3 linked regions of the Homo sapiens genome follow. The protein of the gene in region 1 interacts with the protein of each later gene in a pairwise test. Each region holds a gene or a part of one and is shown in the gene's direction. Other genes may lie near its edges.

Region 1 (7,025 bases):
GCAAGAGTGGCTGCAATTCTTATTTCCCTTGTATAATACATTTATCAAATTGGAATTGGGTCTGTAAGCCTCATCAGTTACCTAGTTTTCTGGTGGTACACTAACTTCGTGTTGGTTTCATGAAAAATATTAACTCTGGTGTTAATGATAAAATTATGTGTTTGGATTGCTGTTTATAGCCCAAAGATTTTAGTTTCAAGAATTTCCTTTTTTCCTCTCCTATATTTAGGCACTATAAGCATTTCTGCTGTATACCTGTCTTCAGGGTTTATGACTAAGGCATATAAATCTATTCTCATCCAACCTGGATATATCAAGATTGTTGTTTTCTGACTGAAAATTACAATTTTAATTCTGTATTTGTCTTCCTTCCCTTATCATAGCCATAAGAAAATATTTAGACTTAAAAATTCCTATGCGAGGCCGTGCGCAGTCACTGACACCTGTAATCCCAGCACTTTGGCAGGCTGAGGCAGGCAGATCACCTGAGGTCAGGAGTTCGAGACCAGCCTGGCCAACATGATAAAACCCTGTCTCTACTAAAAATACAAAAATTAACCAGGCATGGTGGCGTGCGCCTGTAGTCCTAGCTACTCAGGAGGCTGAGGCAGAGAATTGCTTGAACCTAGTAGGCGGAGGTTGCAGTGAGCCGAGATGGCACCACTGCTCTCCAGCCTGGGCAACAGAGTGAGACCCTGTCTCAAAAAAAAAAAAAAAAAAAAAATTCCTGTGCAAGATATCTGAAACTCTTGACATGGTTAAAAATGTAAGGTTTTTTTAACTTATTAAGCAAACTAAGAAATATCTAGATGAAGAAAGTAATACATTTTCAGAAGCAGTTCAGGAAGGCAGAATTAGTGTGTAAGTGAAGATCCCGTGTGGGGTATGGGTGGTCAGTAGTTGTAATAATTTCTGTTGGTTGTGTCTTCTAAAGACTTCTTGATTGCGTTTTGTCTCCATTTTTCCCCTGTTGTCTGTAGCTTGGTGCAGGAGCTTATGGTCAAGAATATGGACACTGCAGTCAGACAGTCCTGAGTTTGTGTCCTGATATCTGTGCTGACTTGTAGAAAATGAATTAATCTTTATAAACTTAATTTTTCTTATTTGTAAAATGGGGCAATAATGGCCTCTGTTGCCCAAGGTTGTATTGATCAAATGACAATACATATGAGATGTGGCACACATCTAAGCTAAGTTGATATAGTCTGTTGCTCCTGTTGCTGTTGCTTAGTTTGTATTATTGCTGATCCATCACATTTTGCTTGCAATATACTAGTATCCTAATTATTGCAGTAGTGTCCTTATATCTTCCATCTCCCATCTCTTCTTTTAAATATGTCTTCCACATTACCACCAGTTAGCTTTCTAAAAACATTATTATAGATCACTCCTCTGTGGCCTTCTGGATAAAGGTCAAACACTTTGTCATAGTATATATGGTTCTCTGCAACCCAGCTGCAAGCTTCCTTTCCTGGCTTAGTTACTACCGTTTCATGCCCATGCATCCTTCCTCTTTCTTCCCCCTGCTCTGGTCACTCGGGACGTCAGGTTGTCTAACTGTGCACTCTACATTCATGCCCCTGTGTATGCTGTTGTCTTTGCCTGTTGGTACCCTTCCTCCCACTTTTTCACCTGACAAATTCTTGATTACCAATAACTGCAAGTTCTTTGTTCTCTGTGATCTCAAAGGATTTTGATTTTGCACATGGTTCTGGCATCCTCCCTCAGATGAAGTCTTTGAAGTTATGGGCTATTATTCATTTTTGTATCTTTATACCCTTGTTGTCGAATGTAACTGGCTATATTTAAATGTATCTTATTTTTTCTTGGGTGAGATACTGTATACACTCTGTAGGGGAGCTATAGGGGCCTCTGTTGAGCTTGTGTTATATACTTTGGTTCACGTGATCACTTTAATTACACTATCTTGTTTGTTGTAGAGTATATAATATGTAAAGACAGAGATTGTTGGTGCTCCAAGGATTAACAGGTTTTTTTTAAAGGAGTTAGTGTGTTCTTCTATCTATATTAACTTAATGGAATGAATCCTTTCATTCCCATAGAGTTGTAAATAGGATACCGTATTACCTACTAAAACAAGAGTTTAGGTTTCTGATTTGCTTTTTTTTTTCAAAGACAATATTGAAAAAGTTGAAACTTGCCTCCTCTTGGTATTCATGATAACTTCAGTTGCCTGAGGAAGGAGGTGATCTGGCTTCTCTTGTCTGCCCTAGTAAGTGGAATGATTTTTTAAAAATTCACTGGAAATCTCTGAACTTGGATGTTTTTTTGTTTGTTTTTGAGACAAAGTCTCGCTCTGTTGGCTAGGCTGGAGTGCAGTGGTGCAATCTCAGCTTACTGCAACCTCCGCCTCCTGGGTACAAGCAGTTCACCTGCCTCAGCCTCCCTAGTAGCTGCCACCACACCTGCCACCACGCCCGGCTAATTTTTTTGTATTGTTAGTAGAGACTGGGTTTCACCATGTTGGCCAGGCTGCTTTTGAACTCCTGACCTCAAGTGATCCACCCGCCTCGGCCTCCCAAAGTGCTAGGATTACAGGCATGAGCCACTGCGCCTGGCCCGAACTTGGGTTTTTATATGAATTAAGTTGTAAAGGATCTTACTTGCTTTTCCTCTTTTGAGACTAGTGCTCCTTCTCACCAGTGCCCCCTGCCAACTTTATGCTCAATTTAAGTTAGTATGAATTCACTTAGAAAAGTACAAATAGCTTTGTGTTCTTAAAGAAATTAGTAGTAGATAATTTTTTTTATTATTATTAAATTTGAGGCAGTCTCACTCTGTTGCCCAGGCTGGAATGCAGTGGTGTGATCTCTGCTTACTGCAACCTCTCCTCTCGGGCTCAAGCGATCCTCCCATCTCATCCTCCATGGTAGCTGAGACTCCAGGTGCGCGGCTAATTTTTGTGTTTTTTGTAGACATGGGGTCTTACCATGTTACTCAGGCTGGTCTTGAACTTTGGGTTCAAGCAGTCCTACCGTCAGGCCACTGTGCCCAGCTTGAGAAAATGTCAAAAGTTTTTATATCATTGAAAAAAGTTAAAAAAAAATCTACAGCACATTAGACTGTAAATAGAATTTTATGCTAAATTTTGTCTAGTTCTTCCCCATTACGTCCCTTCTTTTTTCTTTCTTTTTTTTTTTTTCTTAAGAGACAAGAGTCTTGCTCTGTTGCCCAGGCTGGAATGCAGTGGTGTGATCTTAGCTCACTGTGTCCTTGTCCTCCTGGGTTCAGGTGATCCTTCTGCCTCAGCCTCCCAAGTACCTAGGACTATAGGCACGTGCCACCATGCCTGGCTTATTTTAAAGATTTTGTAGAGACAGGGTTTGTTTGTTGCCCAGGCTCGTCTTGAACTCCTGGGCTCAAGTGATTCTCCCACTCAGCCTCCCAAAGTGCTGGGATTACAGAAATGAGCCACTACTGCTGCAACGCACCCCTTAATCCCCAGTTCTTATCTTTTGGAATTTCGAGGGGAGGAGACCAATTATGATACAGTTTTTCTCCTTTGTTCTCCTCCCCTTTTTCAGTTCATTTGTTCTGCGAATGGCATTTGGAAGCTAGTATTTGGGAGTGAAGTTTGAGATGAAAAGACAACTAATTTGTTGTTAATCAGGGACATTCCATGCTTTGTGGAGGTTTTATACTGATGTGTTTCCTGTTGACTTTTGCTATCAGCAGTAGACAAGTAGAGTCTACTTTCTTTTTAGTTTATTATTATATTTTTTTCTCTTTGCTTTTTAAGACCACTTACAATAAGTTTCTACATACTAGAGTCTGTGTACTTTTCTTCTTAGGATTGTTTATCCTGTGCTATGTTGAGTAGAGTTAGTTAAGAAAAATTTTTTGCAGTGACCCAGAATTTAAAGAACTACCTTCTTAGAGGACAGTTTAAGGAGGTCTATAATATGGAAAAATTATTGAATTTTAGTCAGGTGGATATTATCATGTTTGTTCATTTTATAGATGAAAGTGGGAACTGAGGCACAGTGAAATGAAGTGAATTATATTGTTGAAGACTCTAAGCTATTTGTCCTGATTTCCATACTACTGTACTCTCCCCTGTATCTGTGTTTCCCAAGCTTTTAACCAAGGAACTCATCATGAGTCCAGTTGTAAAAAATATTTTGCCTATCAAAAAGTATAATATATTATCAGGAGGCTGGGTGCGGTGGCTTATGCCTGTGATCCCAGCACTTTGGGAGGCCAAGGCGGGTGGATCACTTGAGGTCAGGAGTTCGAGACCAGCCTGGCCAACATGGTGAAACCCTGTCTCTACTAAAAATACAAAAATTAGGTGTGCATGGTGGCGCACACCTATAATCCTAGCTACTCTAGCTACTTGGGAGGCTGAGGCAGGAGAATCACTTGAACCTGGGAGGTGGAGGTTGCAGTGAGCTGAGATAGTGCCACAGCACTCCAGCCTGAGTGACAGAGCTAGACTCTGTCTCAAAAAAAACCAAAAACCAAAAAACAAACTCCCCCCCAGAAAACAGTATATTATCAGGGAATAATTTGTTTTCTTATTTTTTGATACATTGAGCTGTCGATCAGCTCCAAATCACTATTTTCAAACCGTTAACGTGAGTTTCACCAAAGTCAAAGACACTTAAAAAACTTTATCCCAGAGAAGGCTGAATATGTGATTTCTTATAGATGTTCTGAAGAATTGAAACTGGCTCAAGAAGCACCTGTCCTGCCTTTGCAGACACCTGGTGGTCTAGAGACCTCAAGTGAGGAATTACTGTACTGTATGTTACTTTCTCTGAACTGTAGATTCCCAGGAGTCATGGGAGATTGGATTCCAAGGTCTGTTTATGGATGTTCTGAGACTTTTTTTTTTTGAGACAGGGTCTCGCCCTGTCACCCAAGCTGGAGCACAGTGGTGTGATCATGGCTCACTGCAGCCTCAACCTCTCAGACTTAAGTGATCCTTCTACCTCAGCCTCCTGAGTAGCTGGGACCACAGGCATGCACCACCATGCCTGGCTAATTTTGTATTTTTTGTAGAGAGAGGGTTTCACTATGTTGCCCCAGCTGGTCTCGAACTCCTGGGCTCAAGTGATCCTCCCACCTTGACCTCCCAAAGTGTTGGGGTTACAGGCATGAGCCACTGTGCATGGTGCTGAGACTTTTTTTCAGTGTCTCAGAGACTGTTGTATCTAGAAAGAGATCTTAGAGGTAATCTAATCTGGTCTAGAGTTTTTTTTTTTAAGGCTTTATTTATATACAATGTACATATCATGTAAGTTACATGATGTGACTGTATATCATATATGATTACGTATCCCATTTAAAGTGTACCATTCAACTTTTTTTTTATAGGATTGTACAATCGTCACGCCAATTTAAAATGTTTTAGTTACCCCTAAAAGAAACTTGGTACCCATTAGCAGTCGCTCCCCATAACCCTCTCCAGCCTTAAGCAACCACTTATCTACTTTCTGTCTCTATAGAAGTGGAATCTTGCGACTGGTTTCTTTTGGCATAATGGTTACTTTTTTTTTTTTTTTTTTTTTTTGAGACGGAGTTTCTCTGTGTCACCCATACTGGAGTGCAGTGGCGCGATGCCGGCTCGTTGTAACCTCCGCCTCCTGGGTTCATGCAATTCTGCCTCAGCCTCCTGAGTAGCTGGGATTATAGGTGCCCGCCACCGTACCCAGCTAATTTTTCAATTTTTAGTAGAGATGGGGTTTTGCCATCTCAAAGCCTCAGTGATGTTTAGTAGAGATGGGGTTTGGCCATCTCCTGACCTCAAGTGATCCACCTGCCTTGGCCTGCCAAAGTGCTGGGATTACAGGCATGAGCCACTGCGCCCAGCCTGGTGTAATGTTTTCAAGATTCATCAGGTTGTAGTATCATTACTTCATTCCTTTTTATTGCCAAATAATACCCCATTGTATGGATATGCCACATTTTATTAATCCCTTCATCAGTTGACAGAGATATGGGTTGTTTCTACTTTTTACTATTATTAATAATGCTGCTATGAACATTTCATGTATAAGTTTTTGTATGGATATATGTTTTTCTTTTGGATATATACCTAAAAATGGAATGTCTGGGTCATATGGTAACTCTATGTTTAACTTTTTGAGGAACTTTCAAACTGTTTTCCAAAATAGCTGCTCCATTTTATATTCCCACCAGCAATAATACATGATGGGTCCTATTTCTCCACGTCATGGCCAGTGCATGTTATTGTCTGTCTTTTTGATTATAGGCATTCTAGTGGATGTGAAGTGATATTGTAAGTGGCTTTGACGTGCATTTTTCTAACAACTTATGATGGTGAGCATTTTTTCATGTGCTTATTGGCCATTTGTATATCTTCTTTGAAGAAATGTCTATTCAAGTACTTTGCCCATTTAAAAAATCATTTTTATTGAATTTTAAGAGTTCTTTATAACATATATGATTTGCAAATATATGCAGTATTTTTTTCCCATTCTATGGAAGAATCACCTGAGGTTTTTTTTTTTTTTTTTTCTGTTACCGTTTCATTCTGTCACCCAGACTGGAGTGCAGGGGGCATGGTCATGGCTCACTGCAATCTCCACCTTCTGGGATCAAGCAATCCTCTCACCCCAGCCTCCGGAGTAGCTAGGACTACAGTTGCACACCACCATGCCCAGCTAATTTTTGTATTTTTTTGTAGAGATGGGGTTTTGCCATGTTGTCCAGGCTGGTCTCAAACTCCTGGGCTCAAGCAATCCACCTGACTCAGCCTGCCAAAGTGCTGGGATTACAGGCATGAGTCACAGTGCCTGTCTTCACCTGAGTTTTTTATGTGCACTTAATTTTGAGAACCACTGGTAATGGAAACAAGAGCTTTGAAGGTAGGCCGTAGATTGAAACCCAGCTCTGCTGCTTATTAGCTGGGTAATCTTGGACAAGTGGCTTAGCTTTTCTGAGCTTCAGTATTTTGTATGTGTGAAACAAGATTAATATTGACCTTTTTGCTTTTCTGTGAAAGTAAAATGAGACAGGTGAAATGCCAAGAATGGTAG
Region 2 (7,025 bases), on another chromosome or scaffold:
AGGAGAATTGCTTGAACCCAGGAGGCGGAGGTTGCAGTGAGCCGAGATCACGCCACCACACTCCAGCCTGCGGAGGTCGCAATGAGCCGAGATCGTGCCACTGCACTCCGGCGTGGGCGACAGACCAAGACTCTGTCTCTAAATAAATAAATAAACTCTATAGATCCTACTTTGATTTTACATTTTGCATATACTCTTTTTTGGTGTTTTTGTGTATAATTCTATGGTACTTTATCACGTGTATGGATTCCTTTAACCATCACCACACACCAATGGACACAAGGAATTCCTTTACAGTGGTACCCGACACCCTTCCCACACTTCTTTAATCTGTGGTAACCGCTGATTTGTTCTCCATCTCTCTACTTTTGTCATTTCCAGAATGTTCCATATATAGAATCATACACTATGTGACCCTTTGAGATTTGGCTTCCCCCTCCCCCCTCACTCAGAATAATGCTGCTGCCGGGTGTGGTCGCTCATGCCTGTCATCCCAACTACTCAGGAGGTCAAGGTAGGAGGGTTGCTTGAGGCCAGAAGCTCGAGACCAGCCTGGGCAACATAGCAAGACCCTTGTCTCTAAATAATGTTCTGTTTTGTTTTTAAATTAGCCAGGCATGGTGGTGTGTGCCTGTAGTCTCAGCTACTCAGGAAGCTAAGATTGGAGGATCCCTTGAACCCAGGAGTTCAAGGCTGCAGTGAGCTATGATCCCACCACTGCACTCCAGCCTGGGCGACAGAGACCTCAACTCTAAAAATAATCATAATTTTTTAAAAGATGAATGCTCTTGAAGTTTATCCAAGTTGTTGCACATATCAACAGTTTGTTCCTTTTTATTGCTGAGTACTGTTCTATTGAACAGATGTCCCAGTCTGTCACTAGTCCAGTGTTATGAAAGTTTCTTACTCATCTAAGGGGGAGGGGCTGAGATGGTAAGGAAAAAAACTAGACACAGAGTCCTCAGATTCACACAGTGATTTGTGAACATCCTTGTACCTTGTCACAGACAACCCATGGTGATGTCTGATAAGATTTGATCTCGGTCAGGCCAGGTGCAGTGGCTCATGCCTGTAATCCCAGCACTTCGGGAGGCCGAAGCAGGTGGATCACCTGAAGTCAGGAGTTCGAGACCAGCCTGGTCAACATGGTGAAACCCCGTCTCTACTAAAAATACAAAAAATTAGCTGGGCGTGGTGGCGGGCACCTGTAATCCCAGCTACTCTGGAGGCTGAGGCAGGAGGATCGCTTGAACCTGGGAGGTGGAGGTTGTGGTGAGCCAAGATCATGCCATTGCACTCCAGCTTGGGCAACGGAGCAAAACTCCGTCTCAAAAATAGAAAAATAAAAAGAGATGGGGTTTCACTATGTTGGTCAGGCTGATATCCAACTCCTGACCTCAGGTGATCCACCCACCTCAGCCTCCCAAAGTGTTGAGATTACAGGTCTGAGCCACCTTGCCTGGCCTATCAAGTCTCTTTGTCAGTCAAAAGAGCCAGATAGGATGGGCCCCAGGAGTACCCCGGCATTTCCTCTTGGCCCTGACCCGTGGTCTAGATGATGGATTAATATTTATGAGGGAACGTGCAGTGAGCACAGAATGGGACAACTCCTAGCAGTAAATACTATAGATTTTATTTATTTATTTATTTTTCGAGACAGAGTCTCGGTCTGTCACCCAGGCTGGAGTGCAGTAGCGCCATCTCGGCTCACTGCAGCCTTGACCTCCCGGATTCAGGCAGTCCTCCTGCCTTAGCCCCCCAGGTAACTGGGATTATAGGCACTTGGTGCCATCTCAGCTCACTACAGCCTCAGCCTCCCGGGTTCAAGCAGTCCTCCTGCCTTAGCCTCCCAAGTAGCTGGGATTACAGGCATGTGCCACCATGCCTGGCTAATTTTTGAATTTTTAGTAGAGATGAGGTTTCACCATGTTGCCCAGGCTGCTCTTGAATTCCTGAGCTCAAGCGACTGGCCCGCCTTGGCCTCCCAAAGGGTTGGGATTACAGGTGTGAGCCACCACGCCCGGCCAATACTGTAGAATTTAATAGCAACCAGGTAGAGCATCCAGACCATGCAGGAATCTCCACGGAGCTCTGGATCTAAGCAGGTAGGCAGGGCAGGAAGAGATATGTGCGAGTGGACAGGGAAAGATGTTTTGGAGGTAAGGCTGACAGAGGTGTTGGCGACAGGCTGAGAGGAATGGGCAGGAATTGGGTTTCAGGCCCAAGGCAGTGGGAGCAAAGACGCAGCGATAAGAACACAGCAGGTATGTGTTAGATACAGGGAGAGCTGGATGAGCCTGGAGGGCAGTGAGGCCAGGCAGGAATAGGGGAGCGCCGCCCTGGGCAAGGGGAGAGGAAGTGGGGCAGGTGTGGGGGCATCACCAGGTGTGAGGATGATGGCACAGCTCCCTGTTACCCTCCTTCTTTCCCAGCTCCTGAAACTGGGCACTGGTCTCCTGGAAAGTGGGCGCCATTACCTTGCTGCCAGCCGCGCCTTCGTTGTCGGCATTTGTGACCTGGCCCGCCTGGGTCCACCAGAGCCCATGATGGCGGTATGCGGAGGGTCTGCATCTGGGAGGGAAGGGGTCTGGGATGAGGAGGTGATGCTGTGGAAGAGGAGGGCTGGCCTGGGGTCTGCAGGTTCCAGGCCACAGCAGGGCTGGGCTGCTGTCCATGACAGCCGTAGCAGGCTGGGTCTCGAGTCGGGAGGGTGCTGCCACCCCATGCCTGGTACTCTTTCTGTGCCTCTTCTTGCCTAGGAGTGTCTGGAAAAATTCACCGTGAGCCTGAACCACAAGCTGGACAGCCATGCGGTAAGTAGGGGAAGGTAAGGATTGTCGGGGTGGTGGCCAGGTCACCTGTGGTCCTGACCCCAGTCTACCAACTTCTCCTTCCCTCAGGAGCTTCTAGATGCCACCCAACACACACTGCAGCAGCAGATCCAGACCCTGGTCAAGGAGTGAGATGGGGCCGGGCGCAGTGGCTCATGCCTGTAATCCCAACACTTTGGAAGGCCAAGGCGGGAGGATTGCTTGAGCCCAGGAGTTGGACACCAACCTAGCCAACATGGCGAAACTGTCTCCACAAAAAATACAAAAATTAGGCCGGGCACGGTGGCTCATGCCTATGATCCCGGCATTTTGGGAGGCCAAGGCGGGCGGATCACCTGAGGTCGGGAGTTCGAGACCAGCCTGTCTAACATGGCAAAACCCCAGCTCTACTAAAAAATACGAAAAAAAAAAATTAGCCGGGCATGGTGGCAGGTGCCTGTAATCCCAGCTACTCAGGAGGCCGAGGCAGGAGAATCATTTGAACCCAGGAGGTGGAGGTTGCAGTGAGCCAAGATCGCACTACTTCACTTCAGCCTGGGCAACAGAGTGAGACTCTGCCTCAAAAAAAAAAAAAAAAAAAAAAAAATAGCCGGGCGTGGTGGCACATGTCTGTTGTCCCAGCTTCTTGGGAGGCTGAGGCAGGAGAATTGCTTGAGCCTGGAGGTCAGGGCTGCGGTGAGCCATGATTGTGCCACTGTACTCCAGCCTGGGTAACAGAGCAAGACCCGGTCTCAAAAACAAAAACAACAACAACAACAAAAATTTTTTAAAGGGGGAGTGAGATGGGAGAGAAGGGGGCCTTATTTCTCGGAAACCAGCCCTGCTGCCCTCTTCCCATGGCCACAGGAGCCTCCCCAGTGACGGAGTTGTGAGATTGGGGGTTTCTGGTGTCCTGACTTCCGTCCCAGGGATCACCTTGGGTTTCCCACGTTGCAGAGACTAACTGAAAGGACATGAGGGCTTTACCCTGGGAATGCTCTGCTGGGGCAGGTGGGTGTTAGCTGCGATTCTGTGTTATTTTCCCATCCTCAGAGGTCTGCGGGGTTTCCGAGAGGCTCGCCGGGATTTCTGGCGGGGGGCTGAGAGCCTGGAGGCTGCCCTGACCCACAACGCAGAGGTTCCCAGGCGCCGGGCCCAGGAGGCAGAAGAGGCAGGAGCTGCTTTGAGGACGGCTCGAGCTGGGTACCGGGGACGGGCACTGGATTATGCCCTGCAGGTGCCTGCCCCAATCTGTCTTCCTGGGGTACCAGAGCCTCAAGTGTCACCTCGAGGCTTGGGGGTCTCCAGTGTGCAGTGGGAAGGGGTGCTGTGTCTTCAAGACTGATCTGGGGTTTTTTACGTCCTCTTTTACGTCCTCAGATCAACGTGATTGAGGACAAGAGGAAGTTTGACATCATGGAGTTTGTGAGTTGTGGCGGGGGTGAGGGCAGGGTGGAGAAGAGCCTGCTGCCAGCACAAGGGAATGGGGAGAGGGGTTCTTCCTCAGCCTTCCCACTGCCCGCCTTGTCCCCCAGGTGCTGCGTTTGGTGGAGGCCCAGGCTACCCATTTCCAGCAGGGCCATGAGGAGCTGAGCCGGCTGTCCCAGTATCGAAAGGAGCTGGGCGCCCAGGTGGGGCCCCAGGGCACAGCAGGTGGTAGAGGGAGGTTAGGGACTCCTAACTGGGGGGCCTTGGACATCTGAGATGCCCTTCCTGTGCCCAGTTGCACCAGCTGGTCTTGAATTCAGCACGAGAGAAGAGGGACATGGAGCAGAGACACGTGCTGCTGAAACAGAAGGTGAGGGGCCAGGTGCGGTGGCCCACGACCGTCATCCCAACATGTTGGGAGGCTGAGGTGGGAAGATTGCTTGAGGCCTGGAGTTCAAGATTAGCCTAGGCATCGTAGTGAAACTCCATCTCTACAGAAAATTTTAAAATTAGCTGGTGTGGTGGCATGCACCTCTAGTTCTAGCTACTCAGGAGGCTGAGGTGGGAGGATTGCTTGAGCCCAGGAGTTCAAGACTGCAGTGAGCTATGATCACACAACTGCACTTAAGCCTGGGTGAAAGAACAAGACCCTGTCTCTAAAAATAAATTTTAAAAAGTATTTCAAAAAGCAGAAAGTAAGGGCTAGGGCTGTGGGCAGGAGGCAGATGCCTATGGCCTTGGTGTCTGCCCATCTCAGTTGCCCTTTGATCCTCTTGTGCCTCCAGGAGCTGGGTGGGGAGGAGCCAGAACCAAGCTTAAGAGAGGGGCCTGGTGGCCTGGTGATGGAAGGACATCTCTTCAAACGGGCCAGCAACGCATTTAAGACCTGGAGCAGGTGAGGAGAGGACACCCCCAATCAGCCCGCCCCACCCAATGATGTATTTTCGAGTGGTAATAGCACACTAAGCACTGCAAGGAAAAACAGACGAACCCCCCTGCCTCAGTAGAGTTTCATTCCATCAGCAAAGACAGAGGATAAACCTAGTATGTAAATTACGTGCTATGTTAGAAGGTGATAGTGCTTGCTATAGGAGAAAGATGATAAAGCAAGGGATGTGGGGAGCTGGGTAGGGGTTACAGTTCTAAATAGTTGGGCAGTGTGGGCTTCATGAGAAGGTAACTTTTGAACAAAGACTTGAAGGATATCTGGGGGAAGAAAGTTCTAGACAGAAGAAAGAGCCAGTGCCAAGGCCCTGAGATAGCTGGGGAGTTGGAAGAGCAGGGTGGTGGCCCTGGGTCTGGACAGAGTGAGGGAGGAGGATGTGCAGGAGATGAAATCGGAGCTAATGGGGGCATGAGTCATTATAGGGCCCTATAGATTTTTGTAGGGATTTGGGGTCTACTCTGAGAGCAATTGGGAGCCGCTATAGGGTTTGGAACAGGATGGTGGCATGCTGTGACTTGACTCCTTTCCCTTCTAGGGCCACTGCTAGCCCACATGGGATCTCTGTACAAATTAGAAAATGGAGCTGCTTCCCCAAGATACTCTTTTTTCTTTTTCTTTTCTTTTTTTTTTTCTGTTTTTTTTGAGATGGGGTGTCACTCTGTTGCCCAGCCTGCAGTGCAGTGGCGCAGTCTCGGCTCACTGCAACCTCTATCCCCTGAGTTCAAGTGATCCTCCCTCCTCAGCATCCTAAATAGCTGGGACCACAGGCGTGTGCCATCACGCTCGGCTAATTTTTGTATTTTTGGTAGAAACAGGGTTTCACCATGTTGCCCAGGCTGGTTGCAAACTCCTGACATCAAGCAATCCACCCGCCTCGGCCTCCCAACTTGCTGGGATTACAGGCGTGAGCCACTGTACCTGGCCCCCAAGATTCTTTCTTTTCTTTTTTTCTTTTTCTTTTTTTTTCTTTTTTGATGGAGCCTCGCTATGTTGCGCAGGCTGCAGCACAGTGGTGCGATCTCAGCTCACTGCAACCTCAGCTTCCTGGGTTCAAGCGATTCTCCTGCCTCAGCCTCCCAAGTAGGTGGGATTATAGCCGCCTGCCACCACGCCTGGCTAATTTTTGTATTTTTAGTAGAGACGGAGTTTCACCATATTGGTCAGGGTGGTCTCAAACTCCTGACCTCGGGTGATCCACCACCCCCATCAGCCTCCCAAAGTGCTGGGATTACAGGTGTGAGCCCAGCCTAAATAGTATTTTTTAAATTGTAGCAATAGACATTTTATTAGAAAAAGAATTTTACTGCCATCTGCTGGAAAGTTGTCTTCATAACTATATGAAATCTGGGTTGTCCAAGATAGGAATAGCATCCTTTAGATGTTCCAATCTGCACAATTGTCCACCCTTCTCTGGAATGTCTCGTGGAACAGTCAGCCCAGGTGTCTGTCCTCTCAGTAAGATCCTCATGGGCAAAAAGCACAGCCTCTCTTCCGTCCCTCATCCTAAAGCTGCCTATGTCTGTAATGATTTCCTTCTCTTACAGACGCTGGTTCACCATTCAGAGCAACCAACTGGTTTACCAGAAGAAGTACAAGGTGAGTGGACCTGGGTCCTGGATGCCTGGGCCCCAGGGAGACTCAGCTCTTGCCTGCAGCTGGACATCTGGCCCCTTATCACCTTATCCTGCCAGGACCCTGTGACTGTGGTGGTGGATGACCTTCGTCTCTGCACAGTGAAACTCTGCCCTGACTCAGAAAGGCGGTTCTGCTTTGAGGTGGTGTCCACCAGCAAGTGAGTGCAATCCCCAGGGGTGATACTCTAATATATCTAAACAACTGCC
Region 3 (7,025 bases), on another chromosome or scaffold:
CATGAGGATCAGGGCAGCTGGAGGGCCACCACTGAGCTGTGTTTGGGGGCAGCCAGGAGCATGCGCTGCCAGACAGAGGACCCTTTCCAGGCTGGCTGAGGACAGAAGGATGTGATCATTAAGCAAAGCCAACATGTTACTGACCCATAATCCCTTAAACCAGGAGGATTCGGGAAGGGCCTGGTCGCCTTGGCAACTAGGTGCTGGCCAGTCGCAGGGCTGAGAGCATCCTCCAGGAGTGGGCTGTGCCTGGTGCTGGTGCATGGGTAACAGCTGGGAGCGGGTGCAGGGCGGCCCATCATAGGGCTCACCCCCTGGTGCCTTCTTGCCAGCATGGGTGGAAGCCCTTGTGAGGCCTCAAGGGCAGTGTGTGCAGAGCAGGATGAGAGGGGGGCTGCACTGAGCGTGTAGGAAACCATGAAGGGAAGTGGAGGGGAGGTGAGACAGCGCTGCTCTGGGTTTTCAGGGCAGGAGGGAGAAGGGAGGGTCTGCAGGAAGAAGCAGTTGCATGGGTCTCATTGGGTGGCCAGCAGGGCATCCTCTAATTCAGAGGGCACGAGGAGCTGGGTAGCCTGAAGAAGAAAGCTTTCATGGTTGGGGACAGGACCGTGGGGGTGGGCAGAGCAGCTTACCCCGCTCCTCCATGGTGTTCTCGGTAGGGGATACCTGCCTGCTTGGAGGGCTCTGGCATGGGAAGAGGCCTGCAGGGATCAAGCCTCATCTTCCCTAGGGCTCGACTCTATTAATGGCAAGCTTCCGTGTTTCCCCTGAGACCTTCCACTGCTCCTGACCTCCTGTATTTCAGCTGGAGAGAAGGTGCAGCTGGCCAGCTCTGATGCACTCTTCCCTTCCTCCTCTTTTTCCCCTCTTGCCTCCTGGGGCATGCCAGAGCAGAGACCTTCAGGTGTCAGTATCAGAGGTGAAATGAGGTTTGGACCCAATCATGTCCCAAGGGTGTTGGCCAAGCTGACATTCAGTTTACGGGCCTTGGTCAGTAAGATTTATTGGCTGTTGACACATTCAGGCCCTTGGACACAAGTTGGTAAATTTCTGCTGGTCCAAGGACTGCCTGGTTCTGGCACCCTCCCTGCCACCCCAGCCCTTCCCCCAGAACTCTCTAGACCTCCAGCAGCTAAAGGGCTTAGGTCTGGGGGGCCTTCAGGATCCTCTTTGCACATCATGCCTGCTATTATGACCAATACTTTGCTGGACTAGGTGGTCCATAGAGAACTGCACAGGGCGTGGCGGGGCGGGCGGTGGGCAGTGGAGGCAGTGCTGAGGGTCACTGGGAGGAAGAAGGTGACTGGGAAGAAGAGGGTGAACACCCACCCTCAGAGGGGTCAAACTTTGCAGAAGACACAACCCTGGCTCCCAGTGATGGTGGCATACAGGGCGACAGAGCTTGATGAGAGAGCTGAATTCCCAGTGGGTGGAGACCTGGACTGGTTGCCTTGTTCTTTTCAACTGCTCTTCTCACACTTCCCATCTCAGGACCCGGCTGCCCAGTCCCTCATGATCATGAACAAGATGAAGAACTTTAAGCGCCGTTTCTCCCTGTCAGTGCCCCGCACTGAGACCATTGAAGAATCCTTGGCTGAATTCACGGAGCAATTCAACCAGCTCCACAACCGGCGGAATGAGAGTGAGGGGTCTGGGCCCACCCAGCACCTCTCCCACCTACCAGACACTCCCCAGTCACCTTCCCCTCCCCGCCCACCCCCTCCCCACTGGCCTTAGGGGAGGAGCACAGCGCTGGGGGAGGGGGGCTACCCTTCTCTCCCTCAGGACAGAGAGGCAGGGAGGGGAGCTGACGCCTGTCCCTCTTAGACTTGCAGCTCGGTCCTCTTGGCAGAGACCCCCCGCAGGAGTGCAGCACCTTCTCCCCAACAGACAGCGGGGAGGAGCCGGGGCAGCTCTCCCCTGGCGTGCAGTTCCAGCGGCGGCAGAACCAGCGCCGCTTCTCCATGGAGGTAAGGGCCTCTGGAGCTCTGCCCCGGCAGGTGGCAGGATGCACGCACAAGGGTGTGCACAGGAGGGCAGCTGCCTTACAGCCAGACTTTGTGAGTTCAAATTCCACCTCTGCCATTCATTAGCTCTGTGACTTTGAGCAAGTTACTCAACCTCTGTGCACCATGGTCTCCTTGTCTTTAAAATGGTCATCATGGATTAAATGGGTTTATCTATGCCAAGTGCTTAGAACATTCCTGAATTTAGCAAGGGCTAGACAATTTGACTATTTGATCCACACACATATGCCCAAGTATATGAAAAAATATACTTACAGAATCGGTGCCTGTAAGGGCATGAGACTGATGTTGCACAGATGGTGATACTGTGGCCCAGAGAGGCAGAGAGTGACCTGGCTGTGCTAAGGTCACACAGCAGCCCCGGGTGTTCACGTGTATGTCTTGAGCACACACTGGGAGCAGCTGTGAGCCTGGGGTCACAGCCTGTGATTGGGCTCTGAATGGTTGTTCTGCAGGGAACGCTAGGTCCAGAGTGAAAGTCTGGAGCCCCACAGCCCTAGCTACCCTGAAACCAACAGTGGTGTCCCCATCTCATCCCTGTCACCACAGGACGTCAGCAAGAGGCTCTCTCTGCCCATGGATATCCGCCTGCCCCAGGAATTCCTACAGAAGCTACAGATGGAGAGCCCAGATCTGCCCAAGCCGCTCAGCCGCATGTCCCGCCGGGCCTCCCTGGTGAGTCCCAAGAGGGTCAGAGGACACAAGGTGGGGTGATATGCCCTCCCCAGCATGGGCATATCAGTCCCAGCTGAGGCCTAGATGGGATTTCGAGGAAGATTCCTGGGCCTCTGGTGCCACCTGCTGGCTTGAGTGCATTCAACTAGCTCGTCCTCCTACATCAACATCCATTTCCTAGATGGGTCTCACTTGGGCTGGAATGGGACTCTAAGCCCACAGTGGGTCCCACGGTCTCCACATGGTTAAGATCAATAGGCCAGCTGGCATGTGCCTTCCAGTCCTAACTGCCTATCAGAGCTGTTTGGGACATCTTACAAAACACAGACTCTACCTCCAGACACCTATAGAATCAGCCTCTCCGGCTAGGGGGTCCAGGAATCCGTCTTGTTAAGGGTTGGATACACCTGAGCTAGAAGTGCGCTGATGAGAGACACAGTCAGAGAGGTGGATTCTGAACTGGACACTCAAGGTACAATGGGAAAAAAGGCAGCACTCACTCTGGAGGAGCTCGTGGTCTCAGTCGGAGACACAGGTAGTCAAGATGTGCAACAATCCCAGGTGCCACAGCTCTGGGCTCTACACTCTTGGCTGTCCTGGGAGGAAGAAACTCACACTTTCACGAGCTCTGTCCTTTATCACAGGGATAAAGGGAAAAGGAGCCCCTTCCACCATGGAGTCTCATCCCTTCCCTCCCAGAGGCTGGAGTTGGGGGAGGCGTCATGTCTGTGGAGCTGCTAAGGGCTTCAAGCTCACGGCATTCTATGTCTCTCCCTCTCAGTCAGACATTGGCTTTGGGAAACTGGAAACATACGTGAAACTGGACAAACTGGGAGAGGTAAGACGCTGGGTTTGGTCTTCTCCGAATAGCCAGGCAGGATGGCTTGGAGGAGGGGCAGACCTCCCTAGTCGGCCCTCTCTGGTCGGCCCTCTCTGGTTGGCCCTCTCCTGGCCCCTGCCCCATAGAGGTGCACAGTCTTGGCTGTGCGCTCTGGCCCAGGCTTTGGCAGGGATTGAAGTGAGCTCAGATCCTGAAGGAGGGCGTGAGGATAGAGTAGCCATGGCCCTGGGCAGAATCCAGTCTTTTTTTTTTCTGCAAGTCCTTCTTGCCTGGGTTCAAAACCTAGCTCCACCATTTACTAGCTCTGTGACCTTTGGCAAGTTACATGACCTCTCTGTGTGCCTCAGTTTCTTCCTCTGTCCAATGAGACAGTAATTGTCCTATCACATAGGGTTATTGTGAGGATTGGGCAGGTTACTGTAATCAGCTTATGTACGGCACACAGACAATGCCTGGCACATAGGAAGTGCTGTGTCACTTAGCTATTTTTGTTGTCACTGTGCAGAGGCCTGGGGTGGGTGAAGGTTTATAGAGAGAGGGAACACACAGCCCTTTCCCTCCAGGAGCCCAAAGAGGTGACCTCTGTGTAAACATCAGCATCGTATAAGGAAGAAAAAACCTGGTGTTATCATAGACGGGCACGCGGCGTGCTGGGGCTTAGAGGAAGGACGGATTCACTCCGACTGGGGAGTCATTAGGGATGCTTCCTGGAGGAAGTAGGCTTTGGAGGAAACAGCATGTCAGTAAAGGGAGGAAGGGCACTCAGGCCCCAGTCGTAGCCCAGGCAGAGGCACAAATGGGGAGGCACTGGACAGAGGCCAGCAGCACCTGAATGCGCCTGGGGCCGCTGTGGCCCTCCATCCCAGGGCACCTATGCCACAGTCTTCAAAGGGCGCAGCAAACTGACGGAGAACCTTGTGGCCCTGAAAGAGATCCGGCTGGAGCACGAGGAGGGAGCGCCCTGCACTGCCATCCGAGAGGGTACAGCATCCTAGGCTCCCACGCTCCCCTGGGGGCTTCAGGAGGAGGGGTTCACCAGCCTGCACCCTTGTGGGAGCTGGGGGTAGAGGATCATTGCTGGAATGGGACTCCTGGCGCTGACCCCAAGAAAAGAGGGTATGGGGACACATGGGGTCCTAGGGACCCAGGTGGATCTGTCTCCTCACAGTGTCTCTGCTGAAGAACCTGAAGCACGCCAATATTGTGACCCTGCATGACCTCATCCACACAGATCGGTCCCTCACCCTGGTGTTTGAGTACCTGGTGAGAGTCCGGCTGGGGCTGGCCGCCTCTCCCTCTTGTGGTGGAAACGGGGTGTGGGTAGGGGAGTGGGAAGCTGAGGGAGTGGGAGTAGTGGGATGAGGGCGACCCAGGCCTTGTTCTGGAATCAGATTTTCAGATGCTCCCGTGCAGGAGTGGGCCAAGAGCTCAGGCTTACGGGTGGCTCGAGCCAGGGACCTGTCCCACTAGTGGGCGTGGGCCCTTCCCAGGGAGGGGCTTCCTCTCCTCAGCCTGTGTCTGGGCTTCTGGCCAGGGGTCAGCGTGGGGCAGGACTGAGCCACGCTCTGTGTTCCAGGACAGTGACCTGAAGCAGTATCTGGACCACTGTGGGAACCTCATGAGCATGCACAACGTCAAGGTGAGGCCTCGGGGGCAGGGTCCCCCCATCTTGGCAGCCACCTGTCCAGAAGCCCAGTGTGGGGACCCACTCTCACCACCAGGGATCCGGCTGCTGAGGTGGCTCAGACCTTCCCACGTAGGAAAGAGGGAGAGGGCAATGCCATCAACGAGTCCAGGAACTGGGTTGAGCGCTTTACCCCAAGAACAGACACACACTGTCTGCCACTGTCTAGCTGTTGGTATAAAACCCACTCTCAACTCTGAACATCAGTTTCCCAGTCTGTCAAATGGGAGTGTGAGCTACCTGCCAAAATGCAGGGAGGCTTCTGGGGAAGCTCGGGGTTATGAATGACCTCTCCTGGTGTTTGTTAAAGAATCAAGGCTGGGCATGGTGGCCCACGCCTGTAATCCCAGCACTGGGAGGCCAAGGCAGGAAGATGGCTTGAGCCCAGGAGTTTGAGACCAGCCTGGGCAACATGGCAAGACCTCATCTCTACTAAAAATTGAAAAATTAGCCGGGCACAGTAGCGTGCACCCATAGTCCCAGCTGCTTGAGAGGCTGAGGCAGGAGGGCCACTTGAGCCCGGGAGGTTGAGGCTGCAGTGAGCCATGATCACACCACTGCACTCCAGCCTGGGTGACAGAGTAAAACCCTGACTCTAAAAGAAAAAAAAAAAAAAAAGGGATCAAGCACATATGTCTCCACATAGGCGGGCATCCTGACCCCCGTGCTCCTGACTGAGACTTCGCTGGCCTCCCCCACACTCACTGCGTCCTCTGCACCCCTGCTGTCCTCCCCTCTGGATGGGATTCCCTGGTGTGGGTGGGGTCCAGGATGGGGGCTGCAGGGTGTGCAGGAGAATGAGGGGCTTGTGCTGACCTCACTGCCAAGCCCCTGCCCCCATCCTGGTCCCAGCCTTGGAGCAGAGGCTCAGGGCCACCTTCCACCCCACATTTCTCTTCCCCCTCCCCCAGATTTTCATGTTCCAGCTGCTCCGGGGCCTCGCCTACTGTCACCACCGCAAGATCCTGCACCGGGACCTGAAGCCCCAGAACCTGCTCATCAACGAGAGGGGGGAGCTGAAGCTGGCCGACTTTGGTGAGGCTGGGGCTAGGGTGGGGGTCTGACGCTACTGGGGTGCCTCAGGGTGTGGGTGCAGTGGGGGAGGGCATAGCAGTCAACCCCACAGCACCTGTGGACAGAGGTCCAGTGACATGTCTGCCCCCAGGACTGGCCAGGGCCAAGTCAGTGCCCACAAAGACTTACTCCAATGAGGTGGTGACCCTGTGGTACAGGCCCCCCGATGTGCTGCTGGGATCCACAGAGTACTCCACCCCCATTGATATGTGGTGAGTGAGCACTGTGGGGACCGAGGAGGGGAGGACAGGCCTGGCCACACCTCCAGACTCTCCTTTGCTTCCCCAAGGGCCTCGGGGAAGAACTGCCTAACTTCCTTTGCCTAAAAGCCTTGTGACATCCTGCTGAAATGGATGTTAAAAAATTAGGTCTGAAATATAATAGGTTAGGGTTTCCCTGGCTTAAATAGACCCCCAAGCCTGTGCATTTGAAATCCTCCCCCAGAGGCCTGTGGGGGGTTACCAGAGACCCAGAGGGTCCAGGAGGGCCCCTATAGTAAATACGATGAATCTTCCCCAAGCATCAGTCCCAGTGAAAATTTTGAAAGAGAAGTACTATTTTTATGTTAAAATGAACAAGTGTATGATTTGGTGTAAAATGAAAAATCAGCCCAAATTGCAAGCCAAGCCGCCGGTGGTTATGAATGGCTGCTGTGACTCCGCCCCAAGGTTCCCCAGGAGAATGGATTTATGTACTTCTCTTCCAGTGGGGCACACAGTGGAGA

The links. Proteins that work in one complex are often made in the same cells at the same time.
Region 2: the proteins of FCHSD2 (region 1) and ACAP1 interact in binary tests that used the Homo sapiens proteins (3 or more experiments, as listed by UniProt).
Region 3: the proteins of FCHSD2 (region 1) and CDK18 interact in binary tests that used the Homo sapiens proteins (3 or more experiments, as listed by UniProt).

What each region holds. Positions count from the first base shown.
Region 1 is NC_000011.10:73,132,304-73,139,328, reverse strand, and holds part of FCHSD2 (F-BAR and double SH3 domains protein 2), read left to right. Parts: intron 1-7,025. UniProt on the Homo sapiens protein: Adapter protein that plays a role in endocytosis via clathrin-coated pits. Contributes to the internalization of cell surface receptors, such as integrin ITGB1 and transferrin receptor.
Region 2 is NC_000017.11:7,339,516-7,346,540, forward strand, and holds part of ACAP1 (arf-GAP with coiled-coil, ANK repeat and PH domain-containing protein 1), read left to right. Parts: intron 1-2,432; coding exon 2,433-2,552; intron 2,553-2,759; coding exon 2,760-2,813; intron 2,814-2,900; coding exon 2,901-2,959; intron 2,960-3,863; coding exon 3,864-4,047; intron 4,048-4,190; coding exon 4,191-4,235; intron 4,236-4,345; coding exon 4,346-4,441; intron 4,442-4,533; coding exon 4,534-4,608; intron 4,609-5,023; coding exon 5,024-5,133; intron 5,134-6,728; coding exon 6,729-6,780; intron 6,781-6,875; coding exon 6,876-6,976; intron 6,977-7,025. UniProt on the Homo sapiens protein: GTPase-activating protein (GAP) for ADP ribosylation factor 6 (ARF6) required for clathrin-dependent export of proteins from recycling endosomes to trans-Golgi network and cell surface.
Region 3 is NC_000001.11:205,521,656-205,528,680, forward strand, and holds part of CDK18 (cyclin-dependent kinase 18), read left to right. Parts: intron 1-1,491; 5' UTR 1,492-1,512; coding exon 1,513-1,642; intron 1,643-1,827; coding exon 1,828-1,970; coding exon of another isoform or gene 1,971-2,060; intron 2,061-2,576; coding exon 2,577-2,702; intron 2,703-3,483; coding exon 3,484-3,540; intron 3,541-4,409; coding exon 4,410-4,524; intron 4,525-4,711; coding exon 4,712-4,806; intron 4,807-5,119; coding exon 5,120-5,182; intron 5,183-6,138; coding exon 6,139-6,262; intron 6,263-6,392; coding exon 6,393-6,513; intron 6,514-7,025. UniProt on the Homo sapiens protein: May play a role in signal transduction cascades in terminally differentiated cells.